Linked DNA regions of Homo sapiens. The protein of the gene in region 4 interacts with the protein of the main gene of each other region in a biochemical or structural test. Each region holds a gene or a part of one and is shown on either strand. Other genes may lie near its edges.

The links.
Region 1: the proteins of NEDD4L (region 4) and PIP4P2 form a complex in vitro, tested with the Homo sapiens proteins (one large-scale study listed by BioGRID).
Region 2: the proteins of NEDD4L (region 4) and APEX2 form a complex in vitro, tested with the Homo sapiens proteins (one large-scale study listed by BioGRID).
Region 3: of the proteins of NEDD4L (region 4) and ABL2, one has a biochemical effect on the other in vitro, tested with the Homo sapiens proteins (one large-scale study listed by BioGRID).
Region 5: the proteins of NEDD4L (region 4) and STAC form a complex in vitro, tested with the Homo sapiens proteins (one large-scale study listed by BioGRID).
Region 6: the proteins of NEDD4L (region 4) and SMAD2 form a complex in vitro, tested with the Homo sapiens proteins (one study listed by BioGRID).
Region 7: the proteins of NEDD4L (region 4) and TCEAL2 form a complex in vitro, tested with the Homo sapiens proteins (one large-scale study listed by BioGRID).

What each region holds. Positions count from the first base shown.
Region 1 is NC_000008.11:90,995,508-90,999,762, reverse strand, and holds part of PIP4P2 (type 2 phosphatidylinositol 4,5-bisphosphate 4-phosphatase), read left to right. Parts: intron 1-3,018; coding exon 3,019-3,109; intron 3,110-3,942; coding exon 3,943-4,086; 3' UTR 4,087-4,255. UniProt on the Homo sapiens protein: Catalyzes the hydrolysis of phosphatidylinositol-4,5-bisphosphate (PtdIns-4,5-P2) to phosphatidylinositol-4-phosphate (PtdIns-4-P).
Region 2 is NC_000023.11:55,005,929-55,009,781, reverse strand, and holds the end of APEX2 (DNA-(apurinic or apyrimidinic site) endonuclease 2), read right to left. Parts: intron 3,265-3,853; coding exon 2,347-3,264; 3' UTR 725-2,346; downstream 1-724. Other genes in the region: ALAS2 (5-aminolevulinate synthase, erythroid-specific, mitochondrial isoform a precursor), read left to right, coding at 439-602. UniProt on the Homo sapiens protein: Functions as a weak apurinic/apyrimidinic (AP) endodeoxyribonuclease in the DNA base excision repair (BER) pathway of DNA lesions induced by oxidative and alkylating agents.
Region 3 is NC_000001.11:179,117,848-179,122,102, forward strand, and holds part of ABL2 (tyrosine-protein kinase ABL2), read right to left. Parts: intron 4,021-4,255; coding exon 3,748-4,020; intron 2,428-3,747; coding exon 2,343-2,427; intron 918-2,342; coding exon 740-917; intron 1-739. UniProt on the Homo sapiens protein: Non-receptor tyrosine-protein kinase that plays an ABL1-overlapping role in key processes linked to cell growth and survival such as cytoskeleton remodeling in response to extracellular stimuli, cell motility and adhesion and receptor endocytosis.
Region 4 is NC_000018.10:58,326,471-58,330,725, reverse strand, and holds part of NEDD4L (E3 ubiquitin-protein ligase NEDD4-like), read right to left. Parts: intron 1,732-4,255; coding exon 1,599-1,731; intron 1-1,598. UniProt on the Homo sapiens protein: E3 ubiquitin-protein ligase that mediates the polyubiquitination of lysine and cysteine residues on target proteins and is thereby implicated in the regulation of various signaling pathways including autophagy, innate immunity or DNA repair.
Region 5 is NC_000003.12:36,378,447-36,383,497, reverse strand, and holds the start of STAC (SH3 and cysteine-rich domain-containing protein), read right to left. Parts: upstream 2,995-5,051; 5' UTR 2,855-2,994; coding exon 2,744-2,854; intron 1-2,743. UniProt on the Homo sapiens protein: Promotes expression of the ion channel CACNA1H at the cell membrane, and thereby contributes to the regulation of channel activity.
Region 6 is NC_000018.10:47,920,345-47,924,599, reverse strand, and holds part of SMAD2 (mothers against decapentaplegic homolog 2), read left to right. Parts: intron 1-4,255. UniProt on the Homo sapiens protein: Receptor-regulated SMAD (R-SMAD) that is an intracellular signal transducer and transcriptional modulator activated by TGF-beta (transforming growth factor) and activin type 1 receptor kinases.
Region 7 is NC_000023.11:102,123,881-102,128,358, reverse strand, and holds TCEAL2 (transcription elongation factor A protein-like 2), read right to left. Parts: upstream 2,681-4,478; 5' UTR 2,553-2,680; intron 1,987-2,552; 5' UTR 1,914-1,986; intron 1,556-1,913; 5' UTR 1,529-1,555; coding exon 845-1,528; 3' UTR 647-844; downstream 1-646. UniProt on the Homo sapiens protein: May be involved in transcriptional regulation.

The DNA.
Region 1 (4,255 bases), on a different chromosome or scaffold from region 4:
AAATCACTAACCAAAGGAAAAGACATACCAGGCAAACACTAGCCAACATTAAAATGTAATGTTAATATCAATTAAAATAACAGAGACTGCTGTTTTCTCCTTCCTTTTATTAGTAGACCTCTGAATTTGACTAGCCACTCAGCTAGAGATGGATTTCCTAGCCTGTCTTGCAGATAGTGTGGCCATCTTTAAGTTAGGACCAATGGAATGTGAACAAAAGTGATGAGTACAGTTTTCTGATACTCTCCTTAAAGACAAAATTGCCTGTCTTCGTTTTTTCTCTCCTCTTTGAATTGAGTGGAAAAGCCAACTGGCAGGAATGTTGTTACCTGTGTAGAGTTTGGCAATACCAATCAGGGAGTACAGCTGACTACCAACCCTAGGCTGTACATTTACCTTTAAGTTTTATCTGCTAGAAAAATAAACTTATTTTTAAACTTCTGTATTCTGAATTTCTGAATGTTACGTTCCTTTCTCTCTACAACCTCACCAGCATCTGTTATTTTTTGACTTTTTAGTAGTATTAATTCTGACTGGTGGGAGATGGTATCTCATTGTGGTTTTTATTTGCATTTCTCTAATGATCAGTGATGTTGAGCTTCTTTTCATAGAATTGTTGGCTGCATGTATATCTTCTTTTGAAAAGTGTCTGTTCATGTCCTTTGCCCACTTTTTAATGGGCTGGTTTTTTTTTCTTGTTTAAGTTCTTATAGATGCTGGATGTTAGACCTTTGTCAGATGCATAGTTTGCAAAATTTTTCTCCCATTCTGTAGGTTGTCTGTTCACCCTGTTGATAGTTTCCTTTGATGTGCAAAAGCTCTTTAGTTTAATTAGATATCATTTGTTCATTTTTGCTTTTGTTGCAGTTTCTTTTGGTGTCATCATCATGAAATCTTTGCCTGTTCCTATATCCAGAATGGCATTGCCTAGGTTGTCCTCCAGGCAACCTATATAACTATAAATGTTATAGTTTACATTTAAGTCTTTAATCCATCTTGAGTTAATTTTTAAATTTGGTATGAGGAAGGAGTCCAGTTTCAATGTTCTGCATATGGCTAGCCAGTTATTCCAGCACCATTTATTGAATAGGGAATCCTTTCCCCATTGCTTGTTTTTGTCAGGTTTGTTGAAGATCAGATAGTTGTACGTTTGTAAGTGTGTGGCCTTATTTCTGGGTTCTCTATTCCGTTCAATTGATCTGTGTGTCTGTTTTTGTACCAGTAATATATATTGCATGTAGATACCACATATGTACTAAATATGTAAGAGATTTTATGATTAATAAGTGCTTGTTGGTCATTGCCTTATCCTGTGAGGAGATGGCACTTGAGTTGTGGAGTAGCAGTAGGTTATTTTTTTCAGAGAAGATTTCTCAGATGTAGTGACTATTTAATTTGAGTGATGAAAAGAGAGCACAGGTTTTCTAAGCAGAATTCATGCACTGAAATTAATGTACTAAAGTGTATTCTCTTGGCTCACAGAAAAGCCGCTCTAATATTCACTTAGAAACTTTTGACTTATTCAGTACATAATTTTAATAAGCTTAGTTGGCTTCTAATAAATGGTATATTACAAACTGCCAAATGCAGATGCACAGGCAGTGATAAGAAACAACAACCAGATGTGATGTATAAGGCAAGAAAAACCACCAGTGGATGCATAGAAATTAAAACCAAAAATAGACTAGGGCTAAATGTTACATAAAAGCAATGAATCCTGCATGCCCTAGTAACTCTAGATAGCAAGCTGTACAATATAGTAATTAATGGTGGTCCCCAGGTCATCCAGATGTTTGTGTTTGGGCTCAAGTACCCAGGAAAATTTACGATGTATATTTGCAAAAAACTTCATCAGTTTTTCAAAAAGATTTGGAAATTAAAGGAAATAATTTTGTATGCAAAATTAACCTATTTGGAATCACATGTTTCTAAATCATGCCTAGTAAGTGATGAATTTCTGTATTTTACTTATTCATCAGACATTCTTTGAGAGGTTATTATGTGTTAGGCATAATCTTGACACTGGCCACACAAAGGTGAATCAGATACTTCTGTGTCATTCACTAACACGATGCCTTGCATATGGTATATAGTAATAAATATATGTACGTTAAGACAGAGAAGAAAGTGCTAATTTGGCTACTAATCTCTGCTATAACTTATATCATTTTGAAAATTACCACAATTAGATACAGAGAGGGTGAATACTATTAGATTTGGAATTTCAATTGAGTAGCACAGTAGAGGGCTTTTAGCAGTATGTATTAAAAACAATTCAAAAAGTTTAATCCCTTTAATTTGTAATCCTAATTCTAAATTTAAAAATCTTAAGAATGATTAAAAATAAGCACAATGCTTTTAAATGATACTTTGTTGGCATTATGTATAATAATGAAGATACTTTAATGTACAATAGTAGAAAATTTTTTAATTATGTTATATTCATCCATCAGAATTTTAGTTTGAGAATATTATGGGAAAAAGTTCATGCTATATATTGGTAAGGTACAAAATTGGCTACAGGAAAGTATGCAAAAATACTGAGTGACTATTTTATGATATTGGGATTATAGGTAATTTTTTCTTTCCTTTTTCTTCATTGTTTCTTTCCTTTTTATTCTACTTTCTAAATTTTTTACATAAACACATACTCTTTTAACTGTAAAAAAATCAAATGCTATTTGTAAGATAGCTGTTTTTCCATTCTGAAATAGATTTTTTTGGAAATAAACTTTTATCTTGGGAGATTAGTAGGTACTACAATGGATTTCTGTGGATATTATCAATGACCAAGGCTTGAACTTTGTTTAAAGCCACAATAATATCACAAATTCACCCTGAACGATTTTGTCACCCATTAAAAATGACATGTTTAATGCATGTTCTTGTCTGTAAAGTTGAAGCAATGAATAAAAAGTATATAATATTACTAAAGCCATAGATAAGAACTCACAAAAATGAAATAGAGAATTTTTATGTAAATACTTAATGTTCTCTTTTGCTTTCATGAATTTGCAGCTCCTCAGTGGGTAGTGCACTTCCACGAAGACGCTGCTGTGCATATATTACCATTGGAATGATATGTATTTTCATTGGAGTTGGGTTAACTGTGAGTGTTACACTTTGATGTTAGAATTCTGTCCTCTCAACTTTATCAGTAGTCAATCATGAGGCCTGGGACAACCTTCAGGGATTCCTGAAGAGGCTGCCTCCTTGGCATGCCAGCACTAGAAGCTTCTGAATGATTATGAGCAATCAGAAACCCAATCCATGGACCTCTTTTTGATTGAACTCGCCCATCCAAGTGAAACGGTGTCTTTTTACCTCCAAAAGTCCTTACTGTTGGGGATTTTATCATCTATTTAGCAAAAGCCCATTTAAAAAAAAATCAGTGCCAGAACTAATTTTTATGGCTATGGGGTCTCTTATTATTCAAAGCAATATTCATTCAGCTACAGAGATCTAAAAAAACCACTCTTCTCTTTATCCAAATCAAGCAGAGATTTATTACCAATATGAGGATGGCTTGTTTTTAGAGAAGACTGGAGCTAAGCAGTTAGCATGGGGATTATGCCAGAAGAGGAAGATAATCTCTTTGGCTGCCATTTCCATGCTCCTTTGTTTGTCAGTACAACTAGTCCCTTATTATTAGCAATGTCCTATTGTGTCCCATGATAGTAAGAAGTTACATGGATTAAATTCCTTGTAGAGATAATATAGTTTAGTGTGCTTTTTTGTTTACTTCATAACATTTATAGTTACTACAAGTAGCAGTATGGTCTATCAGTTGCAGTCAACAGATACACCTACTCTTATAAGGACTTTGTGTATTCGGTCTGGGGGTATATTTCATAACAATCACATGTAAGCTGATACAAGTTCCCTAAGCAGATATTTTTTAAAGTTTCTAATATTTTGTTTTTATATTGCTTTTTATTTTAGGTTGGCACCCCAGATTTTGCAAGGCGATTTCGAGCAACCTATGTTTCTTGGGCAATTGCTTATCTCCTAGGATTGATCTGCCTTATCCGAGCTTGTTATTGGGGAGCCATAAGAGTCAGTTATCCAGAACACAGTTTTGCATAAGCTTGTTTATGATTCAGTAATGCAGGTGAGAGTGTCTAGCAGTTCTTGGTAAGCTACTCTGGACATCTTTAAATTATTTATCCTAATGGATTCCATTCTGGTTTATGTATAATCGTTTCAAGACTTTGGGAGTCTTTTATGAACAAATGCTCATTGCACTATATTATAT
Region 2 (3,853 bases), on a different chromosome or scaffold from region 4:
CCAGCTAGGTCAGGTTCCCTTCTCTGGGTTTTCACACCCCCAGGTGGACCCCCTACCCCAGGTTTCCTGGTCATAGCACCAATGACACAGTATAGTTACTGTCATTATCATTGTCCTCATAGGGCTTAGAGTTCCCAAGCAGACAGTCATTCTTGGGCCACAGCACATCCTATACTTAGGGAGTGGTCCAGGCCAGGACAGTATGGCTTCAAATTGTGTCAAAGGAGAGCTTCCAAATCTTTTATAATATATATCCCAGCATCCAGATACAAATGGTAATATTCACGGCACACACAGAAGCAAACAGTAGGCTACTTCTGGCCCTGAGGTATCTTGAAGGGTTGAGGGGGATCAATATCTTGGCTCATCTGTACTGTGACAGATTTGGAAGATCTAGTCTAACCCATTTTTTCCCTCCCCTCCCCCTACCACCTTCAGAGAAGCTGCTGCTGGCTTGGACTGCGGTGGGGCTGCCCCTCCAGGATGTGTCTGTGGCTGCCTGCAATTTCTGTCGCCGTCCTGTACACTTTGAGCTCATGAGTGAGTGGGAACGTTCCTACTTCGGGAACATGGGGCCCCAGTATGTCACCACCTATGCCTGAGAAGCCAGCTGCCTAGGATTCACACCCCACCTGCGCTTCACTTGGGTCCAGGCCTACTCCTGTCTTCTGCTTTGTTGTGTGCCTCTAGCTGAATTGAGCCTAAAAATAAAGCACAAACCACAGCATGTGAAGCCTTTTATTGGACAGGGAACAGACAAGTGCATTCTGACTCCCTCAGACAAGTGGCAGATCTATGAGGTAACCATAGGTCACTTGTTGGTCACCATTCCATTTTACCAACAGGGAAACAGAATGAGAAAGAGGAAGGAAATGCCCAAAAACTACACAGTGAGTTGCAAAGAGCTAGGATACTTGGCAGATTTATTTGAGATGGCTCTTCTCCAATGGTTTCAATAAAAATCCAGGGATTGACGCTTCACTGGTAATCCGGGCCCTGGAAATCTGGGCCCAGGGTAGCCCCTGAAGCCAGGAAATGAGTCAGCCCTAACCAAATTCCCTAGAAAGGAGTGGTTCCCCAAAACCAAAGAGGTATTTTCCATAAGGGGATATGGATGTCTTCCTCAATCCATTATCCTCTCTCCCTCCCACGGCATCCCACAGAACAGGATTTACCAGTCCCATTCTTTTTCTTTTCTTTTTTTTTTTTTGGAGACTGAATTTCACTCTTGTTGCCCAGGCTGGAGTGCAATGCATGATCTCAGCCCACTGCAACCTCCGCCTCCCAGGTACAAGCTATTCTCCTGTCTCAGCCTCCTAAGTAGCTTGGATTACAGGCACGCGCCACCACGCCCAGTTAATTTTTTTGTATTTAGTAGAGACGGGGTCTCACCATGTTAGGCTGGTTGCGAACTCCTGACCTCAGGTGATCCACCCATCTCAGCCTCCCAAAGTGCTGGGATTACAGGCGTGCACCACTGTGCCTGGTCTACCAGTCCCATTTTCAAAGGTGAGAAGAGGCTTGGCTAGAGCAAGCACTGTGTTCAAAGCAATGCTCCCACTTTCCAGGTCACAGTATACAGGAAACATTTCCATGGCACACTTAGGGGTACTAATGATACTACTTGCTAAGGAGGCAATCGTCCCTGAAACTTGTGTGGTCCCAGGCCCTGCCTGGCAACTCTGAGGGCTGAGGACCGTTTCTTTCAACCCTGTAACCCACTGTGGCAGCTGTGGGACGCACTAGCTGGAAAGCTCTGGTTTAAGGCTACACAGCCCACCTTCCTTGCTGATTTCACCTTAGCCGTACAGGAAATTCCTACAACTGAGCAGAGAACCCTTTATGGTGAGCACTGCTGCTCACGCCTCACTATTCCCTCCTCCCCCCTCCCTCCTCCCCTTTCTCTGGGAATTACATCATTGGGCTACAGCCAGCCGGCAAACCAAGTATTGAGATAGCTTCTCTGACTCAACTTTATGGAGTACCTCCACAATGTCCAAAGTGCAACCCTGAAACAAATACACAGACTTTATTTATGCACAAATACACTTTCCAGCAAAGACAGAAGTGATTTAAAATCACACAACTTCCTGGGGCAGCTAGTGTCCGTGTACTTCGGACAGGAAGGTGGAAAGTGGTGTAAGGGGCTGGGTCACAGGATTAAGGCACAAGAAGCTCACCAACAAGGAGCTAGGTAGGAAGGAAAGCGAGGAAGAGAGGGCTTAAAAGAGGAAGAGAAGGGTAGGAGACTTTGAGGGAGAAGCAGGAGGCAGCTCAGGGAAGGGGAGCTGGCCTCAGATCATGTGCAGGGGTGACCATGCCAGATGTCCCCAGGCCTCCATTGGTTCAGCTGGGCCTGCTCCAGAGGAAGAAGTTGCACCGGGAGGAGGGGTCAGTGGGAGGACCCCGGGGCCTGGCACACATGTAGAAGCGGCGGCCCAAGTTGGGTCCTGGCTTCTTCACAGTACGCATCACACATGGCTCCCTGTGGCCCCCACAGAGGGGTGTGCGCAAGGGCCCCGCCAGCACAGACTTCCAGAATGAGGTCCGTAACTCCTTCTCATCTTTGGCTTCTGAAGTCTTGGCCTGCCCCTTCACCACTTTGGCCACTGCCTTCTCTTCTGGAGTCTTCGGGGTCATGAGGGCGCTCATCAGTGGTAGGCTAGGCAGCTCTATGTCAGGAGAGGCTTGGGGACAGCTAGGGGAGGGCTGAAAGTAGCTCTTCAGGTTTTTCTGGCCTCTGCTAGAGCCAACCTGACTGGGCTGAGGCCTGGTTGAGCGCACTTGGGCTTTGTTTTGGCATGTCTGTACCCGGGTTTGATTGTTGTGCTGCAGCGTCGACTGCTCCAACACAGGACTTTGTTCGAGAGGAACTAGGAAGCGAAGGATCTTGAGCTGGGTGCCTGCAAACTCAGGGAGGAAGCGGGTGCACAGAGGTGGGCACTGTTTTGCAGGCACAGAGGACACACTCAAGACTGCACCCACAGGGCAGTGGTCAGAGCCCATCACCTCAGGCAGCAGGAAAGAGGCCTGAAAGGTGTCTATGACCAGGGTCCTGTCCCCCAGCACATAGTCAAGCCGGGAGCCATAGTTGAGATGGCGGGCGCCAGTGACTGCTGACCAGCAGGTGAAGGCCCCCTCCTGCTTTGGTTGGAAGCAGCGGTAGCTATCGATGAAGGGCCCTACATGAGAGGCAGACTGGCACCCCAAGTTACTGAGCAAGCTGTCCATCCACTTGCGCCCTGGGTCCTCTTCAAAGCATTCCTAGGTGAGGAGGAAAGGGGGTTGGAAGAGAGAGAGACAGAACTAGATACCTAGAACTGGAAGGGACTTAGACTAACTGCTGCATTTTGCAAATAAGAAAATTTGGTTGTCCCAAGAGGACTACTGCTCAAGGTCACACAGTCCGGAATTGGCAGAGCTGGGATTCTGATTTTCATCCTTACTGATTTAAAAGACCATGCTTGTTTTTCCCTCTGCACGAGCTTGCATTTGTCTTGCATTGGTCCGTCAATGGCAAATCTGAAAGTTTGCTTACTCAAAGCAATTCCTGGAACTGCTTTTCAAAAGGATGGAAAACAGGAAGTTAAAAGTGTTTGCCTCTAGGAAGCAGGGCTGGGGTTAAGAGTTAGGAAGACTGTCAGCTTCTTCCTTTAAACCCTCTGGCACTATTTGGTTTATCTAGTGTGTCAAAGCCCTCAATGACCATTCCTACCTCCTGAGCTGAGGACCTGCAAGGATCCAGGTCTGAATACTTCCTTAGGCTCTGATCCCCAATCCATCATCCATCAGTCCATCCATTCAATCCACCTACCCACCCACTCATTCAATGCAAGAAATGTTCATGGAATAC
Region 3 (4,255 bases), on a different chromosome or scaffold from region 4:
GTGGCTCACGCCTGTAATCCTAGCACTTTGGGAGGCCAAGGTGGGTGTATCTCCTGAGCTCAAGAGTTCAGGACCAGCCGGGGCAACATGGCGAAACCCAGTCTACAAAAAAAAAACAAAAAACAAAACAAACAAAAAAAAACCATAAAAAAACACTTAGCCGGGCATGGTGGCATATTCCCGTAATCCCAGCTACTCAGGAGGCTGAGGTGGGAGGATGGCTTGAGCCCAGGAGGCTGAGGGTGCAGTAAGCTAAGATCGCATCACTGCATTCCAGCCTGGGCGATGGAGCCAGCCTGTCTCAAGAAGGAAAAAAAAAAAAAGCCACTAGATGGTGAAAAAGGATCTTGGATACAGTGCTGGCAAAATAAAGAGAGCTCTCTGGCCAGGCATGGTGGCTCACACCTATAATCCCAGCACTTTGGAAGGCTAAGATGGGAAGATCACTTGAGGCCAGTAGTTTGAGACCAGCCTGGTCAACATAGCAAGACCCCATCACTATTGCAATTTTTTTTTAAGAGAGTTCTCAGGTTTGAGAATAGCAAAGGCCCCTTATTAATACTTTAATCAGAGTACAGTAGGTTTACAAGTTAGAAGTGACATTATAATGGGCCCTGTGAAATACAAAATTACTTTCTTGAATCATCTGAAATTTTCTGGGAAGGTTCTCACATTCTTCCTTTTATCTGCATGTCAAGCAAGATGGCTTCATGGTTGGTCAGAGGTAAGTTTTACACACCTATGGATGAAATTCTTCTTCTCTAAGTACTCCATTGCAGAAGAAATCTGAGTGGCCATGTAGAGCAGCACAACTGCAGTCACCTCTTCTCGGTTGCATTCTCGGAGGTAATCCAGCAAATTCCCGTATGGCATGTATTCAGTCACAATGTAAAATGGTGGCTCCAAAGTACACACACCTAAAAGTTGAACAATAGTGCTTGTTTTTATTAGTGTACATTCAAACACTCCAAACCACTTTGGCCAAGAATAATTTGACAATTTTTCAGGTCTAGTTCGGCAATAATCTTTTCCCTTCTTACCACCACGTTCTCTGAAATTAATAAGCAAAAACTAAGAAGCTGGTTTATAAGGGAGTCCTTGCTTTCACTGTATTGTTCTCTGGGAATTCATATGCCTCTGAGTATTTGTCTATTTGAGCAAAAGCAGAGTTACCTGTATTAATTCTATAAGGGGCCAAGAAAACCAACATGTCTAGAGTTTTGCACATGGCCCATGATTCTCCTCCTCAACTGCAGGCTAACAATACTTATTCAAAAGTAATAGCAATTGTGCACAAGCTGAAGACTATGTGAGCCCCACCTGCAATACTGCTTTGCAAAATGATTTTCATCATTTCCATAGTCAAGGATTTCACTGATATATGGCAGATTCCTTATAAAAAACCAACAAGAGGCCGGGTGCAGTGGCTCATGCCTGTAATCCTAGCACTTTGGGAGGCTGAGGCAGGCAGATCGCCTGAGCCCAGCAGTTCAAGACTTGACTGTCCAACATAGCAAAACCCTGTCTCTACTACAAAAATTAGCTGGGCGTGGTGATGCACGTTGAGGCACGAGAATAGCTTGAACCTGGGAGGTGGAGGTTGCAGTGAGCCAGGATCATGCCACTGCACTCCAGCCAGGGTGACAGAGCAAGACTCTGTATTTAAAAAACAAACAAAAAAAAACACCCCCCACACCCCCCCAAAAAAAAGAAAAAAAAAAAAACCTGGCCCTATTTTAAAAAAGGAAAAAGGCTTAGTAAGAGAGTTCTTTGTGACCTGAACAGTGAAAAGCCAATCTAACATAATAAAGCATTTCCTGCTTGTAAAGGTAAACTGAGGGGTGTGGTCACAGTTTTTAATTTGCTTCTTTTCAACAGTCCTTTGTTTAATGTCTCTTTATTTTGCAAAAACATTTCATGAGTTTTTGGTTCAGTACCATTTTGAACACTTCTGAACTTTGAATCTGGGGCAATTAGTACAAACTGAGCAGTTTTATACACCAAAATCAATCCAGGCCACTGTTTCTTGGGCTATTTTTAAACACAGAACCTACTGATTAAAATAACTATTTATTGAAGTGGATTCAAACCTGCAGCTTCCACCATGGTGACTAAAAAGAAAGGTTTGGGGGAGGAAAAAAGGCGGGGCATGGTGGCTCATGCCTGTAATCCCAACATATTGAAAGGCCCAGGCGGAAGTATCACGTCAACAGCAGCCTGGACAACAGAGCGAGACCCTGTCTCTATATTTAAAAAGAAAAAAAAAAAGCATTTGGAGATAACAAGGGGTTAAAGGGCAAGCATTTTTGGAGGAAATCTATGGTTCAGGCAAGGTTCCTCACCTAAAAGTTGTACCAGATTAGGATGCTTGATTTCCTTCATTACTGCAGCTTCTTTCAGGAATTCTTCTACCTCCATGGTATCTTCCTAGAAAAAGGGAAAGGTAAGAAAGAAGAAAACGAGAGGGACAAACCCTCAACTTAAAATCATTTCATTCATCTCACAATCATAAAGCTTCAGCTTTAAAAGTAAAAACTATCTTTTGAATATTTTAGCATATTACAAGATATAATTATTATTTTAATTTAATTTATTTTTTTGAGACACGGTCTCGCTCTGTTACCCAGGTTGGGGTGAAGTGGTGTGATCTCACTGCAACCTCCGCTTCCTGGGCTCAAGCGATTCTCCTGGCTCAGCCTCCCAAGTAGCTGGGATTACAGGCATGCACGACCATGCCTGGCTACTTTTTGTATTTTTAGTAGAGACGGGGTTTTGCAATGTTGGCCAGGATGCTCTCCTGACCTCAGGTGATTCGCCCACCTGAGCTCCCCAAATTGCTGGGATTACAGGTGTGAGCCACCACGCCCAGCTGAAATAATTATTATTTTAAGAAGTCCAACTTAGAAAGAAAAATGCCCTGGAGTAAAAATTAGCAGGAGGAGCAAAATTCAGCAATCGTGTCCTATAATCAACTGAAACACAGGAGCCCTGTATTGGATAGTTCAGTTCTCTCATAGTTTACTTCTCCAGATATCTCAGGCTTTGAATGACGAGACAGAGCACTTAGCTGCTTACATACTTATCTTCTTGCTTAGATCATAATCTTCTTAGAGAGCAAGGCCTTATATATTGCTTCACACTCAGAATATGCTTAAGAAACAGAACTGACTACTACTTAATAGCTAAAGAATAGCCCTTATAAGTGATACACCAGAGACAGTTACTGAGGCTCTGGGAGAATCAAGTGAGTGAAAACCTTATAATTTGATACTGGGATGTTTAAAGGAGACATATAGTAGTACTACGAAAAAGATTTCTGTTAATATTAAGAAGTGATCTAACTGCAAAGAGACAGGAGGAACAAGAACAAGGGAGAGAAAGGACAGAACAAGAAAGAGGCCCATGACTCTCAGACAAGAATTCTGTCCAGCAGGGGTCGTTCTCAGGAAGCAAAAGAGCTTATTTTGCTTTTATAACTTTTAATTTGCTTCTAACCTCCCACTAAGATCTACATCAACAGCCTCCAGAGACAGACCTTTCCCACATGTGGGTTTCACTGCATTGCAGTGAATAATCTACCTCTGCATTGTCAGCAATGGCACTAGGGTTAATCATCTCAATTTGCTGATGTGCTTGGCACTAGTGGGTGGAAAGTGTTCCAAAGTTAAAGAAGGGCATGCTGATATTTCCAAGTGATTGAGCACAAAAGAAAAAGATGCCTGAAAACTGTAATTCTCAGCAACCCACCTTCAATGTTTTCACAGCAACTGTAAGGCTGTATTTCTTCCAGACGCCAACGTAAACCTCTCCATACTGACCGCCCCCAAGTTTGTGCTTCATGGTAATATCTGTTCGCTCCATTTCCCATTTGTCGTGGATGGGGGACACACCATAGACTGTAGGCTTATTACACTTGGGTGCTGGGTAGTGTAATGTTGTCACCAGCCCATCAGCCACTGTGGAGTGATGGTGTACAAGCTCTGCCAAGGTGCTGAAGCGGCTCTCAGCAGTCACATACACCTGGTAAGAAAAGGAGAAAAGCTAAACAACTTGAAAAGAGATTAAGAATTTTTTTTTTTTTTTTTTTTTTTTTTTTGAGATGGAGTCTTGTTCTGTCACCCAGGCTGGAGTGCACTGGCGCGATCTCGGCTCACTGCAAGCTCCGCCTCCCGGGTTCACGCCATTCTCCTGCCTCAGCCTCTCTGAGTAGGTGGGACTATAGGCGCCCGCCACCATGCCCGGCTAATTTTTTGTA
Region 4 (4,255 bases):
GAGACACTGGGGTAAACACTAGAAAGAAGTAGGGATCCACCCAGCTCCCCAATGAAACCATGTAACAACAATAGCCCCGGTGATAACTATAATTAACACCTACTAAGTGCCTCTCATGAGGCACACAACCTTCACAATAATCACGAGGAAGATAACTCCCCCAATTAACAGATGAGGAAACTGAGGCACAGAAAATAACCTGCCCAAGGTAACATCTAGCAAGTGGTAGGGCCATGATGTGAATCAAAGAGGCCTGGTTCCAGACAGAGGCTGTGCTCTTAACCACTTTATAACAATGCCTCTCTGAACAGTGACTGATTTCCAGCACTTGTTACTATATGTGTGGGCAAAAAAACAAACACACACACACACTTCTCTGGAGTTTATAAACAATTGTCATGGATTTTCTTTTACTTTTAACCACTGAGGATTCACCGTGGGAGCAGCATAGAAGCTATACGCTGTAATTAAACAATGGTATAAAATAACTTAGAGTGAATGTGTTATGGAATCATTACTTTTGCTTTTCCAAGTTGAATCGCCGCATTCTAAATGATCTTCCTAACACAATGTCTAAGAAGAATGGATTTTTAGTACATAAACAGAGCTGGTAAGATAGCATGGAAGATTATGGCTAATTTGTTGTTTAATTCATAACGTTTTAAGTAACATACCATAACTATTTAAAGGGAAAATTACACATTTCTGTTCACCTAAATTTATATTTTCATGGTAATAAATCTCTTCCAAGTGTCAAAGCGACTCAATAAAAATATGCATATGATACCCAAACAAGTTACAGGGCTCATTCAACAGCTCAACTATGATAAAAACAAGCTGTCATTTAATGAGACATGGTTAGACCCCTGTGAAAAATAAATTACAAACTAAAAATATCTTAAGATTTTCATACTGAAAAATAATGTGGGCTGGACACAGTGGCTCACGCCTGTAATCTAAGCACTTTGGGAGGCCAAGGCAGGTGGATCATGAGGTCAAGAGTTCAAGACCAGCCTGGCCAACATGGTGAAACCCGTCTCTACTAGGAAAAAAAAAAAAAAAAAAAATTAGCCATTGTGATGGCATGCACCTATAACCCCAGCACTTTAGGAGGCTGAGGCAGCAGGCGGATCTCGAGGTCAGGAGATTGAGACCATCCTAGCCAACATGGTGAAACCCCATTTCTACTAAAAATACAAAAACTGGCCGGGTGTGGTGATGCGTGCCTGTAATCCCAGCTACTCAGGAGGCTGAGGCAGGAGAATTGCTCGAACCCAGGAGGCGGAGGTTGCAGTGAGCCAAGACTGCACCACTGCACTCTAGCCTGGGCGACAGAGCAAGACACTGTCTTCAAAAAAAATAAAAATAAAAATAATGTTATTCCCATTTCTATAATATAGAGCCACCTATACTTGTCAAATACGGCTTTTATAGGCACTTTCAAATTAATATTCAGATGGTAATTAATTCCCTGCGTCACTGTAATCTTTACATTCTCAACAATGTTTACTGACAGAAGAAATTATGATATAAAATCAAGCTGGAGAACATGGGAAGAAGGAGCTGCCGGGCTTTGCACCATTCTGGGGACATCGTACCTCGGGGACATCCCCGCCCTCCGAGGGCTCGGGCTCCAAGTCTTCGCTGATGTGCCTGCGGGAGCGGAAGCGCCGGTGTGCTGCCTCCTGGTTGATCTGTCTGATGTTATTGTCCGACTCCGAGGACACGTCCCTGAGCATGCAGGAAAGGGGGAAAGAGAAGAAGAGAAGTGGTTGAGATCGGGCCCTTCATGACAGTTCAATGCTCACGGAGGGCCAGATGGCCACTAAAGTGTCAGCGTCAAACACTGACAACTAGCTGGTCATCCAATGTGAGAATTCTCCCACCATATTACGGCTAAAGTATAGGTTAAGGTTCATTTCAATCAAATAAATGCAGTTTTAAAATGCATTAGTCACACCATTTTGAGCATCTTTCAGGCATACATTTCAAAATATACCTCAGTGTTTAATAAAAAACAGAAATCAAAGTCCTCTGCCCATTTGCCACAGTGACAAGTCAGACCTCTGGAAGCAGAGGTGACAGGCAAGTTCACACAGCAGCTGGGCAGTCCCAATCCTTCTAGAAGTCCAGCAATGACAAGGCAGCTACTTCTGGTCACCAGCAATTTGACCAAAGACTACAAAAGGGACAAATTCAAAGCTGTCATCTGGAGGAAAGTACACCTGATCCAACATGAATTTTTTTCAGCTGCTTTCTAGCTCATTTTAACAGAATCTCAAAATCGTGACACTGCATTTACCTCCTTTACCCTACTTTAAAAATCCTAATAACATCAGGAGATAACCTCTCAAGTCAGCCGGGGTCTGAAGAACACCAAAACATCATACCCTATTTTTTGTCATGTGATGTTCTCAATTCAGGATCTAAAAGTTTTGATTCAATTTGGAAGACTTTTTTGGGCTGGGCATGGTGGCTCATGCCTGTAATCCCAGCACTTTGGGAGGCCAAGGCGGGCGGATCACTTGAGGTCAGGAGCTCAAGACGTACCTGGCCAACATGGCAAAACCCCGCCTCTACTAAAAACACAAAAATTAGCCGAGTGTGGTGATGCGTGCCTGTAGTCCCAGCTACTCAGGAGGCTGAGGCAGGAGAATCACTTGAGCCCAGGAGGCAGAGGTTGCAGTGAGCTGAGAGATCATGTCACTGTACTCTAGCCAGGGCAGCAGAGTGAGACTCCATCTCAAAACAAAACAAAACAAAAAAAAAAAGAAAAAAGAAAACTTTTTTTTTTGCAGTAAATTATAGGCAATCATACTTTGGGGGAAATACTAGTCAGAGGCTTTTAGTGTACAAGTTTAAATGCCAAAAATTTTTTCAGGGAAAACTCTCACAGATACTTTCAATAAGATAACATATCCCATTAACAAAAATTATGTCACAAGTCAGTATCTCAAAAGTTGAAATCGTCATTTCAGACTAACTGAAATATAGTACTTATCAAGAACACTCATTATAGACTCTTTCTAAAACACAAATTTTAAAGTTTTCTCACACATTCTGAAATGAACTTATACTGTATCCCAATAAAGGGCCTGCTAGCAGAGGTTGTGGTGGAAACTCTTTTTCCTTAACTAACTTTCCTCTTGCCTTCTAGAAGTTATGCCCATTGGAAGGAGGCGCTCCTCAGGTTCTGCCAAGTTCTGCTGTGTCCTTCCTGGCTCAGCCTCTCCCTTTGGCATTGCTGCCTCCTTGATGGGGCAGTTATGCCTCTGCCTTCTCCCAAAACTACATGTGAGCCCGAACTTGGATTAAGAACTGCATTTTTCAGCCGGGCGTGGTGGGTCATACCTGTAATCCTAGCACTTTGGGAGGCTGAGGTGGGCGGATCACCTGAGGTCAGGAGTTTGAAACCAGCTTGACCAAGCCAGTGAAACCCCATCTTCACAAAAATACAAACATTAGCTGGGCATGGCGGCGGGCGCCTGTAATCCCAGCTACTCAGGAGGCCAAGGCAGGAGAATCGCTTGAACCTGGGAGGCGGAGGTTGCAGTGAGCCGAGATGGTGCCACTGTGGGTGACAGAGTGAGACTCTGTCTCAAACAACAACAGAAAAAGAACTGCATTTTTCCCTTGTTGCTCTAGACTAGTGAAGAGCCAGCAAGTTATACCTTTTGTTTTAGTTTCTGGGACACTGCCACCAAAGATGGTTTCTCTTTTAAATCACTTTATTGAGGTCTAATCAACACATTAAAAAGCTGTTCATGTTTAACGTACACCTCTTGATGAGTGTGGGGACATGTCTACACCTGTGGAGCCATCAAAAAAATAGTATATATTTTAAAATGTATGAAGTGTTTTCTCAAGAATTCCCTCGTTAGTTTCACAACTCTGTGAGGCAGAGAAAGTAGCAATTATCCCTATTTGTCCCCAAAATACAAACTCTAATCTGCATGATCCTTATTTATGAAGTTGAATATTTTTCCATATACATATTAGCTATCAGGATTTTTTCCTTTGTGAGTTGCTCCTGGCCACTTTTCTGCAGAGGTCGCATGAGGATCTACCTTTTCAGTACTCCTTTCTCATGCTGTTGAGCAAAGGTAGGTAATGGTGCTTTGCTTAGGATATTGCTACCAAGATTCTTCTAGTCACTACATGTAACCAAGCCCAAGGTGGGTCCAAATTCATTTTTACTACAAATAGCTACAATGGATTACAATAATTCTAATAGCTATGGGCATTAATCAAAAGG
Region 5 (5,051 bases), on a different chromosome or scaffold from region 4:
GCTTTAAAATGATCCAGTATGTGTAGGGTGGTGGTGGTGGTGGTAATACATAAAACAATACTGTCCATGAATTAATTGTGAAGCCACATGATTAGGTCCATGACAGTTCTTTATACTGTTTTCTCTACTTTTGTGTATATTAAAATTTTCCATAATAAATTTTCACAGTGAAAATGATCTAACCTTTCTTGGCTTCCACTTCCCCATCCATAAAATAGAAATATTAACAGAATCTTCTATTGTGAAGATTAAGGTTGTATCTGACTTACAGTAAACATTCAGTAGATGCTCACTATTGTTCTCGCTCAACTATGTAAATATATAAACAGATTTAAAAAGACATGAGATATAGATCAAAGTTTTATTAGTAGATGCTTCTGGATGGTAAACCAAGAGCTAATTTATTTTTCTTTTCATCATTTATGTCTGGACTGTTCAAATATCTACAAAGAGTATTTGTTACTCTTATAATAAGACAAAAAAACCTAACTCTTTAAAAAAAGTAACTTTAAGTCTTCCTTGAGAGAGTTTAATGCCAAGGGGGCCTGAACCATGTTTGTCCCACAAGATATTTTACAAACAAGACCACTTCATGGAAGAGTAAGATGGAATGCATATTACTGTCTTGTTCACATTTTCCTCACCAAGCTCTCATGCTCAGGGTCAAAGATCCTTGTAAACGCCAGTAAGCTTTAACATGTGGCCTTCCTAGAATAGAATGAATTGAGCCTTCCTCTCCTCCAGTGTCATGCCATCCTACTCCCTTACCTTACCACACGTTCCTCCCTACTAGCAGTTTAGCCTTTTTTAAGGGGCATGGATCACTTTGAGAATATCATGAATGCTATGCCAAGAAAAATTCACATGTAGGCATACAATATTGCATTCAATTTCCTAGGGTTCATGGGCTGCCATAGTTCATCTCCACTAATTAAGCTTACTGAGGCCATGACATCAAATTTAGGAATGTAGAAACACACATCCGGTGTATAGACCACTTTGAGAAAAACTAATTTGTACAAAACCATAAGCCAGATAAATTGGTGGATAATTATGGGCATTACATATGTGGCTTTTGCTCTGCCAAATAATTTCCATTAGGACATCTATAAATAGCAAATCCATATAATGCATTTGAACCATGCCACTGTTTGCCCAAATGCTAAGCCCTTTCCAGAACACGCCTACTGCAGAGCAACAGGCCAATTCAAAAAGTTCAATACTAGTTTTACTCTTGAGTTCAGCTACATTCATTTATAGAATTCTAGCTTTCCTCTAAAATGGCCACTAACCTATATCACTCTGGGGACTGATGTTCAATGGGAGGCAATGATACCCAGAAACTTTTTGACTGAGGAGAGGTAGTGCATGTGTATGGGTTATCAGATTGCTTTGGAGTGGATCATTTGAGATGAGATAGATTCCATCTCTTTATCTCAGGAAGGAAAAGGATAAACATGATTGAGTCCTTACAGTATACCAGGTGGACATTAGGGCCTCTCATGTACTCCTCACAATGTCTCTGGAAGTTGGGGCTTTTTCCCTCATTTCCAACCGAGTTTTAGAAAAGTTGACACACATACCCCAGGTCTGGCAGCCAGTAAGTAACAGGAAAAAAATAAAAATAAATAAGATGTAAAGCTTTCGGGCTTAGATTACCATCATTGATGGTTAACTTCAGGGGGCTGGGAAATGTACAGTGCCCAGTATCACACCAAATCCCCAGAGCCACTCAGGCTGTGATTTTCATCCTCCTGATCATATCAATGGCTTCCAGGGATGCATGTGAAGAGAGACAGGATCGCAGTCTTCCTTGCCCCATCTGGCCTGTCCCTATCCTATAAACTGGCAACCCCTTTCCTTTGCTGGTATACACGGACTGCCTCACATTCCCCAAATGCCTGGGGATCGCACAATGAAATCAGAATAAAGAGCCAGGAGCTCTACACTTAAAAGAATCCACATAACTACAAACTCCATCTTAGGATTTCCACCACCAGCTGAGTTGCCATTTGGCATTGCACTGCTAGCAGCCACATTTTACTCTATCCTCTTCCAAGATTTTCAAACATGTGCCTGGCACCCACGGGAGTTTCAGAGGAAGTGTAACAGTGACAGGAGAACTGCTGCGGGCTTGGTTTTTTGTATACGTGTTAGTGTAACTTTCATAAAAGCAAGTATAGGTTCTTAGAGTATTAACTTTCACAAGAGGAACATCAACTTTCAGACAAACGCAGGCAAACCCTTTCTTTTTCTTTTTCTTTTTTAGTGAGTAGTATCTGAAGGTAGGGGTGATCCCTGTTAAGCAAAAGGTCTCTGAGACCCTTGGGATACATACATGCTTTTCTGGCCCAGTACTCAAGCTTTTCTGGAAGAGTATCCCTCGGCTGTCTCCATCCCTCAGCCTTCAGAAGCCACCTAATACCTACCTACACGTGCTTTGGACACAAGCAGGTTCAAAGCACAAAAAAAACCAAGCTACCACCCCGCAAGAAATCGATCTCTGAACCCGGAGCCACCATGAATTGCGTGTGTGAATGTGTGGGCGGGAAGGCTGGGTCCACAGGGACGTGGTCCAGCATCGTGAGCAGCGGGTCCTACCGGACGTTCAAGTCCTACAGCCCTGGGCTAACTAGCAAGTCTCAGACCCCCACGCCCGTGCTAGATAGGAGGAGAGACAAAGCTGGACCGACAGGAGAGGAGAGTGAGTTTGTGTTCTCTTGGGGGCAAGCGTGCTCGGTACCTTGGATTCCTGGCTGCTGGTGGATGCAGGAGAGGGCGGTTGCTCGGCGCCCACCGCCTCCTTGGGCAGCCCGTCCACGCCGTCCTCGCGGGGGCTGCTCGGAGGGATCATCGTGGCCGCGCGGGAACGGTGTTGGGCTCCCGGAGGAACAGCGAGGCTTCTGTCCTGCGCGCCCTGCCCGCCGCGCGCCAGGCTGCTCAGCTCCGGGTCCTGGGGACTCCCATCCTCGCCGAGGCGCCGACGTGCCCTCCTCCAGCCTCGCTCCCTCTCCCTCCCCGCCCTGCCCACCTCCCCGGCACTTCCGCGGGCGTGGAGGAGAGTGCGCCCTGCCCCGCCCCGCCGCGCCCGCGGCCACCTCGCCGGCGACCTCACAGTCGTGACTGCCACTCGGCAGCGGGCGAGCGGGCTTCTGCTCGCCCGCAGGAGGAGGAAGGAGGCGGGGAGGCAGCTCCAGGGCGGGGCTGCGCGGCCAGCGCCTGGAGTAGTGAGGGCAGGCAGGGGGCAGCGCCCTGGAAAGGGCTGGGGGAAGGCTGGGCGCACGCCGGCACTGGGTGGGGGTGATTCTTCAGAGAGGATGCTGAAAATTCAGACCCAAACCCCAAAGAATAGAAAATCTGTGAATGATATAGCCAGAAAGAGCCACTTGCAACAACTCCCTCATTCCTCACCCCAACGAATAGTGACTGAGACAGTGACTTAGCTAAGCTATTTATAGGGTTCAGTGACAGAGAGCAGGGGTCGGAGTGGGGGTCCCCTGACTCACGGGCACTGCGTTTTCTCCATTCAGCTTTGATCTAAAGCAGAGAGATAATGCAGTGTGTATATGGACACCTGTTCCTCGTTTGTTGTGCACTTATTGTACTAAACCCTTTCTTTTTACCTTATTTAATCCTCCCAGCTACTCTATGCGTCTAGGGATTATCACTTCCATTTTATAGATGAGGAAGTTGAGGCTGTAGGAAGACTGAGTAATTTGCTTTAAGTCACTAAACTATAATTGGTGAAACTGGAATTCGAACACATTTGGGCTTCAAAATCCATGCATTTCCGACTGTGGAGCCTCAAATCTAGGCCAGGTCTTGGCTGAAGAGCAATTGGATGTTGCAGTATAGCAAGAGTTGAGGACTGTTCACAGAGGGGCAAACCAGCCTGCCTTACTAAATCTTTTGGAAACATAGGAATAGCCCCACTGAATAAAGATACAGAGGGTCCAGTTTCTTTTGAAGACAACCTCAGTGTGCAGGGAAAAGAAACACACCTAGATATTTAAAAGCCTCTTTTCCCCCATTAATACAAAATACCCTCAATTTTTTAAAACAAAATTGCAAACTTCTGTTCAGATTTTTAAAATTAGCTGTAGATGTTTGCAAGAACAGCTTCATGGATGTGCAACCTGTGCAGTCACACAGGGCCCCGCGCTGATGCTGCCATCTTGAAATTCGGTAAAAATATTTAACAAGAGATCACATTTTCATTTTGTACTTGACCCTGCAAATTATGTGTTTGGTCCTGCATCCATGCCCTAGCTCATGTCTTTTAGAATAAACTTGCTCTTACTCTTTCCATCCCAGATGTCAATTGAAAGCTACTGTTCAATGTGTCAGCCTCTTACTCAGCATTTAGCTTTCAAAATGCTCTAAATTTTCTGGTGACCCTCAGTACGGGGCCAGATTGGCTAGCCCAAATGGCTTCAGCTTTTTCCTTCTCACAACACAATGCCTGAGTGTTCGATAGAGACAGAATTCTAGTAGCCAAAGTCACAAACACAATGACAGGAGCAGCCATATCAACACATTTTTATCAAGCATCTATTCTGTATCAGAATTGTGCCAGAAACTAATGATACAGCAGAGAGAAAACACAGATTAAGTCTGTTTTCCTGGAATTTAAGTCTAGTGGGAGAGACAGCAATTAATTAAATCACACACACATTTAAAAAAAAACTATGATAAGGGAAAGTACAAGACTTTGATGAGTGTGTACAAATGAAGCCTGAGCTAGCATGGGGCCAGACGAGGGTTTTCTTAGGAAACAAAACTCCCAGGGTCTACTGGCAATTCCAGTCTTGGTGAGCAAGCATGTCATGGCTTAGAACAATAAATTTTTCATCCTTTTTTTCTTTTGGATTTTCTTTTTTTAAGAATTGAAGATGTCATCCTTACTTTTAGTAAGTGCTTAGCTCAAGTTAGCAACAGTATTAGCCAATAGTATATGTTTAAATGTTGTCCCTTGAAGGAAATTTAGAGAAGCTAGTACCTCCTTCCTTTCCACCCCACCCTGATCCAGCAGCAGAAATCCTTAGTCTGAT
Region 6 (4,255 bases), about 10 Mb from region 4:
GTCCCAGCTGCTCAAGAGGCTGAGGTAGGAGACTTGCTTGAACCGGGGAGGCCGAGGTTGCAGTTAGCCGAGATCCCGCGACTGCTCTCCAGCCTGGGAGACAGAGCAAGACTCCGTCTCAAAAAAAAAAAAGAAAAAAAAGAAAATGTGGGGTGGCAAATCTTTTTTGCAGAGCCTCCTATATAAAATCCTCATAAATGATGCAGTGGAAGCTGGGCCCGTGAGCCTTCTGCCTTGACTTGAGTGAACTATTGAAACTCTTTTGTTGACTAGAGATACTTTATCTGTGGTAGTAAATGTAAATTTTCCTTATTGAGATCCACTTTTAAAATTCTTTTTTTTTTTTTTTTTGAGACGGAGTTTTGCTCCTGTTGCCCAGGCTGGAGTGCAGTGGTGCGATCTTGGCTCACTGCAACCTCCGCCTCCTAGGTTCAAGCAGTTCTCCTGCCTCAGCCTCCTGAGTAGCTAGGATTACAGGCATGCGCCACCATGTCCGGCTAATTTTGTATTTTTAATAGAAACGGGGTTTCACCATGTTGGTCAGGCTGGTCTCGAACTCCTGACCTCAGGTGATTCGCCCACCTTGGCCTCCCAAAGTGTTGGGATTACATGCGTGAGCCACTGCGCCCGGCCTAAAATTCTTAATAGACAGGTAGTTAGGTTGTAGTTCATGTTAGCTGATCAATTAAACTTTTTTTTAAAAAATGTTTTAGTTATCAGGAGGGTCCAGCTTTGGCCTGAGGTTGTGCATTGGCCATTTCTGCTCGAAACCAGTAGTAGTCAGACTTAAAACATGTGCACACCTGCACACACAGCAGCAACTAGAAAGCCTTTAGAGAGAAATATGCAGAATTTCGAAATGTAAAACAGATAAAAGGAGTAAAGCTGTTTTGTGGAAGGAAGAATAGGCAGTTGTTGAAGTCCTGCCTGATCAGTTTTCCTCTCATCCTCACCACCAGGAAGCCTTTGAAGCACAGCTGAAGAACAGTAGGTCTTGGAGAAATTTTTGCTGTAGACCTGCTCTATCTTAACAGGTAGCTGCCAGCCACATGTGGCTATTTAGCACTTGAAATGTGGCTGCTGTGACTGAGAAACTGAATGTTAAATTTTACTTAATCTAAATTTAGATAGCCATATGCAGCTGATGGCTACTGTATTAGACAGCACAGATACCCAAGGACATTTACATCATTGTATAAAGTTGTGTTGGGTGGCACTACTCTAGACTTTGCTTTAATTGAGCTTTTATGGCCTGAGGACCCCACTCACGTGAATTGACGTGGTATTAGTTGCTGCTTCAGAAGAGGGTCAGGATAGACTTTGGGAATTTGAAGAGCAATTAGAGTACTTGTACTTTATATTTGTGCTGATTTGAGTCTGGGCCTGTGTAGTGTTGTCATAGGTGCTTTTTTTTTTTTTTTAATAATCTGGGAATGATAAACCAATATGTAAGTTACGTGTTTACAAGTTGATTATAGAGTTGTGGATTCCACAAAACTCATTATAGGTGATAGGAATATAACTCTTAGTTAAAAAAAAAAAAATAAGTAGTCTCTTTACACAGCAGTCCCTATTTAATGTGGACTTTTGCTAAAATAATAATTTTCTTGAATTAAATTCAAGCTTGCATTAGGTTTGACAGTCCATAAAGTTGAACACATGAATGTTTTCTGTTTGCTTTTGTTTAAAAGACATGACCCATCATTCTCCATGGGGGCCGACCTAGGTTTCCAGTTGGCAGTGTCTTTCCTTACTAGCTTACGCTTTGGAGAGAACATAGTTGTAGTGAGAATTGAAAAATCTGTTTTTAAAAAATTGGGTTTTATGTATTTTAATTTTTTTGAGGTTTTCTATTATCCTGGTTACTAATGAATTATTTATTTGACTAAAACAGTTATACAATTCCAGGTCATTGATGCTGCTGTTTTTTTCTCTGCCTTGTAGTATGTTTGAACATAGATTGCTAAAAATCTCGGTCTCCACAGAGGATTGGTTCCGGGACTCTCCTGCAAGCACCAGAATATGAGAACGCTGAAGTCCCTTGTATAAAATGGTGTAGAATTTGTTTTATGCACATTTTATTGTTATTCTTTAAATCCTCTCTAGATTACTTAATATCTAATACAATGTAAATAGTTGTTATTCTATATTGTTTTAGAAATGATGAGAAAAAAGTCTGTACATGTTCAGTACAGTCACAGTTTTTTCCTGAATATTTTTTATCCATGGTTGGTTTAATCCATGTATTTGGAACCCACAGATAAGGAGGATTGACTGCACAGTGATTTTATATTATTTCTAGTGGGACCTTAGATGTTCTAGATGAGGCAGCACCATCATATTTAAAGTATTTTTGTTGAAATAATTAACTTTGGTTTTCTTTCTAAATAAAAATTCACATAGGTATTTGGGGAATATTTTGTATTTTCCTGCAGTTTGAAGATTTGAAATTTCTCTTCCCTCCATACCTTTTAAAAGTGCAATCTACTTTTGCTTTCTACATTTAATCACTATCTGTTCTTGACTTCAACTTTGCAAACATATTTTTTAACCATTCTTTTTCACATTTCCCTTCCTACTGGCCTTCCGGATGAACTGTCAAGTTTAGCAGTCTTTTCTCAGTGATCATACTTTCTTCAGTGTTTGCTGTTATTGTTTATACTGTCTTTATCTAAATTTCTTAAAATGACACAGACACAAGTTAGGCCCATTCTTCTTACTGTAAACAGATGAAAATGTTGGATAAAATATAAAAGTTTTCTCTTATGTATACAGTTGATCTTGAGAGAGAAAGTGCCCAGGTACTAGAAACTTAGAAAAATCAGTCAACTTTAAGGGAAGTGTGGCCTTGGGGGATTTACTAGAGATAAGATTCAGTAGTTGGGGCTGAGGTTATAATGCCATTCAATGAAAGGAGACAGAACTGTGGGAACTGTGTGCTTAAAAAAATTAAAAAATGAAAAGTGTTCTGGTATCATTGAAACATCTGGGGCTTCTTGGAGAAAGAAGCCTCAGACCTCTCTATGGAGGAACTGGAAAAACAGTAGGCTTTAGATGGACTTTAATATCACAGCAAGGCAAGGCAGGGTACATGAAAACATCTACAGCTGCATGTGGAATAGTGAATTTTTGTATACATAATCCATGACTGCAATCCAAAATTCAGGGATACCCAGTGAAGAGTCTCTTTACTGGTCTGTTCTTTGCCATACAGTTGCCTTTTCAAAGGCAAGTAGCTTTACTAGGTTTTTGTGTGGTGTTCCAGAGATTTTATGCATCTATGAACAATTTTGTGTGTATATTACCTTTTAGTACAAGTGGTCACATATGTCACTTAATAGTACATCTTATTTTGTGTCAGTATGTAATGAATGCCTTTCTTCTTTTTTGGAGTAGTGGGTTGTATAATATTCTTTTGTATGGGTGTCTGTAAATTTTTTTTTGAGACAGTGTCTCACTCTGTCACCCAGGCTGGAGTGCAGTGGTGTGATCACAGCTCACTGCAACCTTGACTGCCAGGGGTCAAGTTAATCTCCCACCTCAGCTACCTGAGTAGTTGGGACTGCAGGCGCATGCCTACCATATCCAGCTAATTTTTAAAATTTTTTGTAGAGGTGGGGTTTCGCCATGTTGCCTAGATTTGTCTTGAACTCCTGGGCTCAAGCGATTTGCCTGCCACGGCCCCTCAAAGTTTTGGGATTACAGGCGTAAGCCACTGTGCCTGGCCGGGTGTCTGAATATATCATCAGTCCTCTGTTGAATGTTTCCAGTCTTGTGGTATTAAAAACAATGCTACAACAAATAACTTCGTTTATATAGCATTTTGCTCCTTTGCAGGTATGTCTGTAAGATAGATTTCTAGGAGTAGTTCAAAGAATATCTACATTTGTAATTTATTTTAGAGAATGTACTTTATTCATTTTTTCGAATAACACATGCACATGGTATAAAAGTCAAGGAGAACAAAATAGCAAATACTGAAAAAAGTAAGCCTCCTTTACATCTCCTACCTCCTGCTGCCCAGTTGTGCTTTCCAGAAATGTAACCACTGTTACTAGCTTTTCGTTTATCCTTCTAGAGTTGCTCTGTCCAGTATGATAGCCACTAGCCACCATGTGGCTATTGAGCTCTTGAAATTGAGATGGACCACAAGCATAAAATACACACCAATTTTCTAACAGTACAAAAACAGAATGTTAAATATTTCAATGGTTTTTAATACGGATTGCGAATTGAAATAGTATTTTGGATATAT
Region 7 (4,478 bases), on a different chromosome or scaffold from region 4:
TCGGCATCAATGTGAGCTTTAGGAGGGTGCAAGATTTATGAGAAGGAGCACAGTGCCCAGTGGACATGACATTGTCTAAAAGAGGATGGCACCCACCTTTCAGTTTCCTAGACTTATTCCTGGACACAGGTAAGATTTACCCTAGTCCTCTTCCAAGTGTCTGAGGGGGTATTTTTTTCTGCTAGAGCAGGGGAGAAGGTAGATGCCAACCCAACAAATATATTCTCTACCTTATCCAACCCACTCAGCAGTTCTGAAAAGCAAGGTATTATCTCTATTTGACAAATGAAAAGACTGTCCGTTAGAGCAATGGATCTGTAATAACCCCAGATTGACTTCTCCAGATGAGTCCCACAGGTAGGTAATGTGAATTTTACCTATCATTTTAAGTTCTGACAACAAGAACGTTAAGTGTCTCTACTGAACTTCATAAGTTCACTGGACAGTTATTCTCTTTGCTTTTTACATACTGTTCTGATTTTTTAAAAATATTTTATTATTTTTGTGAGAAAAGTAATTTGTGTTCTCTGGGAAAAGAAAGATTAGTAGAAAGAAAACAAAGAAATGAAATCACCTGCTAGCTCACAACTCAGAAAACCACTGTTAACCTTTCATGTATTTAACAAAAACAGACAGATTCTGTAGATGATATTATAAGCTGCTTTATTTTTCCACGAATCATGACGTCTCTGCAATGCACATGTGTGAAAATCTGCTACTGAAACATAGAGCAAGCAAACACTGGCAGGTGGGTCAAAACGCTACTGGTAGCAGGAGGAACGACTAAAGCAAAGTATTACCATAAGGTTAAAACATATGGCCTGACAAATGCCTGCCAGGGACACTACACATAAGGAATGTCTTCAGTGTCCCTTCGTGGGGCCCTGCAGCCACCCCTGAATTCCCTTGGACCCCTAGGATAGAAGGGGTCCTGTAAATTTCTTTGCATCCACAAAAACGCCCCCAATTTCTGTTTGCTTTTTCTCCTTTTATCCTCCACCCTAGCCATGTTGTCAAATTCTCTTATCATGTCCTCATTGCTGAAATTCATATCATGTATGGCTTCCTTATATTGCTTGAGGTACTGAGCCAGCCCCTTGTTGGTTTTTCTTTTGGCTTTCCTGGGTATATCATCCTCAGCTGGGCGCTTTCCTGCAGCCCTTGTTTCACTTTCTGGCTCTCCCTCACTCTCTGGCTCTCTTTCACTGTCTGGCTCTCCTTCACCCTCTGCCCTTCCCCCTCTCTCTGGCTTTCCCTCTGTCTTTGATCCTCCCTGCATCTCTGACTTTCCCTTCCTCTCTGACTTTCCTTCTCCTTTTGCCTTTCCCGCACTCTCTGGCTTTTCTTTATCCTTTAACGGTTCCTCAACTCTCTTGCCCGTGTTTTCTGTGTTTCCCTCGTTTTCTAACTTCTTGTCTTCCAGAATACAAGCTACTTCTGGCTTTCCCTCGTGCGGTGGCTGTTCTTCATTGTCTATCTTTCCTTGATTCGAAGGCATTCCTTCATTTTCATTGAAGAGTTTTTCCATGTCGAGATTTCCCCTCCTTTTCCTTTCCTGGGGGATGGGTGTGGAGGGAAGAGGAGACAAAGAGGAGACATGGGAGACTGAGGGCATGGGGTGGAATGCAGGTCTGGATACTACTTGCATCTCACCCCTGGTGAGGGTTCCCCTAAGCTGACTGGGCCTCCAAGAGGGCCTTCTGCCCACCACGTAGCCCACCACTCCTCCCACACACGTGAGCCAGCTGTTCCCTGGCAGGCCCTGCCACCTTCTCTGCACTGGTTCAGCCTGGTAAGGTGTGTGTTCATGTAGGTAAGGGGATGGGCAGGGGCCCCAATTCGGCCCTGACTGTGCCCTCCACACTCTCAACCCTTGTGGGCCCCTGTCCATGCAGCCCCCTGCTTTCACGGACCTGCGGGGATTCTGGACAGGTTGCTCTTCCTTTTCAGGCCTCTCAGAGCGCTGGGAACAACAGACGCGCAGACCTGCGGACAGACAGGAGACAGGGGCAGGGGCTGCGCGCTTAGCGGGCTCACAGGGACTCGGTTCCCTTTCCTGAGTCCAGGCCCTGCTTACCCACCGTTTTCCTCCCCTACCTCCCCCGCACCCCAGCCGCCATTTCTTTCCAGGCCTCGGGCACCAAACCAGGATGCTTTCCAAACTGCGTTTGTCTCTGTGTCCCCCTTCCCCGGAGGCAACCTGCCCCAGCGCCACCTCATTTTTGCGGAGATCAAGTGTTTCCATGGGTGTAGATTGTGAGAAGGGGTTATTTCCAGAATATGTCTACGTTTCACTGTCGCACTGCGGGGTCGCTACCCCCACCCCCCATTTCCAGCACTAAAATGGATGGAGGACTCAGTGCAAGGGGGCGTCGAGAAGGCGAGCCAGGCTTGCTTCGGGGGTTCTCCCTCCACTGCCCCCGCCCCCGCGACTCCGCATCCCCCTCCTCCCCAATCTACCGGATCCCTTCTCCGCCCCCTCCCCAATCCTACTGCCAGCCCCCTCCACCCCTGTCCCAGGGTCCGCCGGCAGCGCACGCCTTCACACTGACCTGCGGGGACCCAGGACAGGCCTGTGCCTCCTGCGGCTCGCTGAAGCCCGCTCGCTGCTCCCCCGCCGCCTGGGCAGCTCAGACAGCTGATTCTGCGCGGGCGCCCGGACCCGACCGCTGGGCGGGCTGGCGGGCGGGCGCGGGGGCTGGTGCCCACGTAGGCGCCGGGCGGGTCACGTGAGCACCGCGTCACCGGAGCTCTGCCCCCGCTCTTGCCTGACACACCTCACCTTGGAGCTGGGCCCCCCTCTCTTTCCTGACATACCTCACCTTCCATCCCTGAGGGACCGGAGGCTGGGGACGGTCGGAGTCTCGGTGCGTTTGTGTAGCAAAGTGGGGTCGCGGAGAAGAGGAGGAGAGGTGGCTTTCTGACCCTAGGTGCTTTACCTGACGCAGCTCACAGCATCCTCGCAAGGCATATCTCTCTGATGCCCATTATCGCCAGGTGTGACAGCTGATCATAGAGGTACCGGACTTTGCCAAGAGCGCTCAGCCCCAGAACTCCACAGCCCACTTTCAATACCGGCTCTGCCTGACTCCAGAGCCCGGGGGGTAGTGGTGCCTGCCAGGAAGCTGAGCTGCCACCTTGAGTGGCGGTGTTCCTGGGGTTCTGTCCTGGGCCTCCTCTCTCCTCAGTCCTCAAGTTGTCTCTCCCTGTGTGATCTCATTCATTTCCAGTAAACACCGATGACTCCCAGATCTACAGCTCCAGGCTGTTCCCTTCTCCGTGTCTCATATCAGCTTTGCCAACTGTCTATTGGACATCACCGCCTGAGTGTCCCTGAGGGACCCCAAAGCCCGTGTACCCCAAATTGATTTACCAACTTCCTTCTTGCCATCTCCCTTGGTCTCTCTCCACACTTGAAACTTACCTTCCAACATTTGATCAGTTTTCATAGAGAGAGAATGTCAGACAGGTAGAAAAGAAAGCATTAAAACATTTTAAATATGAATTTCAGATGCACAAATTCATCATAGTCCTTGGTTTACAACACACCCTTATCATCGATCCCTGCTTGTCCCTCTTCCTTCCCTTTTCTTTCCCGTCCTATTATTTCCTCCCCTTCCCATCCTTTGTCTTTTTTTTCTTTCCTTTTCTTTCACATTCGTGAAGCCACCACCCACAAAAACTAAGAATCACCAATATTTTAGCTTCTACAGTATAGTGACATGTATATGTATATATACACATGTTTATTTATACACACATATATGTATAGATGTATATGTGTGTACATATGTATGTGTATGTCTTGTGTATATCTGGGCAACAACTATTTTTATTTTGATTTGCAAAATACCTTATCATGATTACAGGATTATGAATTATGTGTGTTACACAAGCAATTCTGATTATATTTCTGCTACACATCTTTCTTCATTTAGTAAAACCTTGATCTTCCTACAGTATTTTGCTCTATCAATATGTGTATTCGTCATTATCACCACATCACCAATAATTCTGTCCTCAATGTTGAATTTTTTTCCTGAATTATCGAGGCTAGGTGTTTCAATTTCATCAGTATAAACTTCCATAAAATTATTATAATTATTCAAGAATTTGATGAAAATAATATCAAATCAGTTGAAAAGAACTGATTTTCTGTTTTAATCATCTAATTATAGTGATTTTAAGCTGTCTTCAGTAACTATTTGCTAAGTTATTTTGCTAATGGAGCCAAAGTATTAACAACTATTTCTCCTCTTTTAAAACATATACACAAAAATGTGGGATTCAAAATTAGTATCATTAAATTTGAAGAAATGTCATTTTATCTAAATTAAAAGATCTGTTCACAAAATGAGAAGTCAACACAACTTTTGCATTTGCATGTAATAAATTGACACATTGTTCCTCAAGTAATTACTACCTTTGGAAGAAGATATAATGACAGTTCTCTTGATGCATAGTATATGTTGATTAAA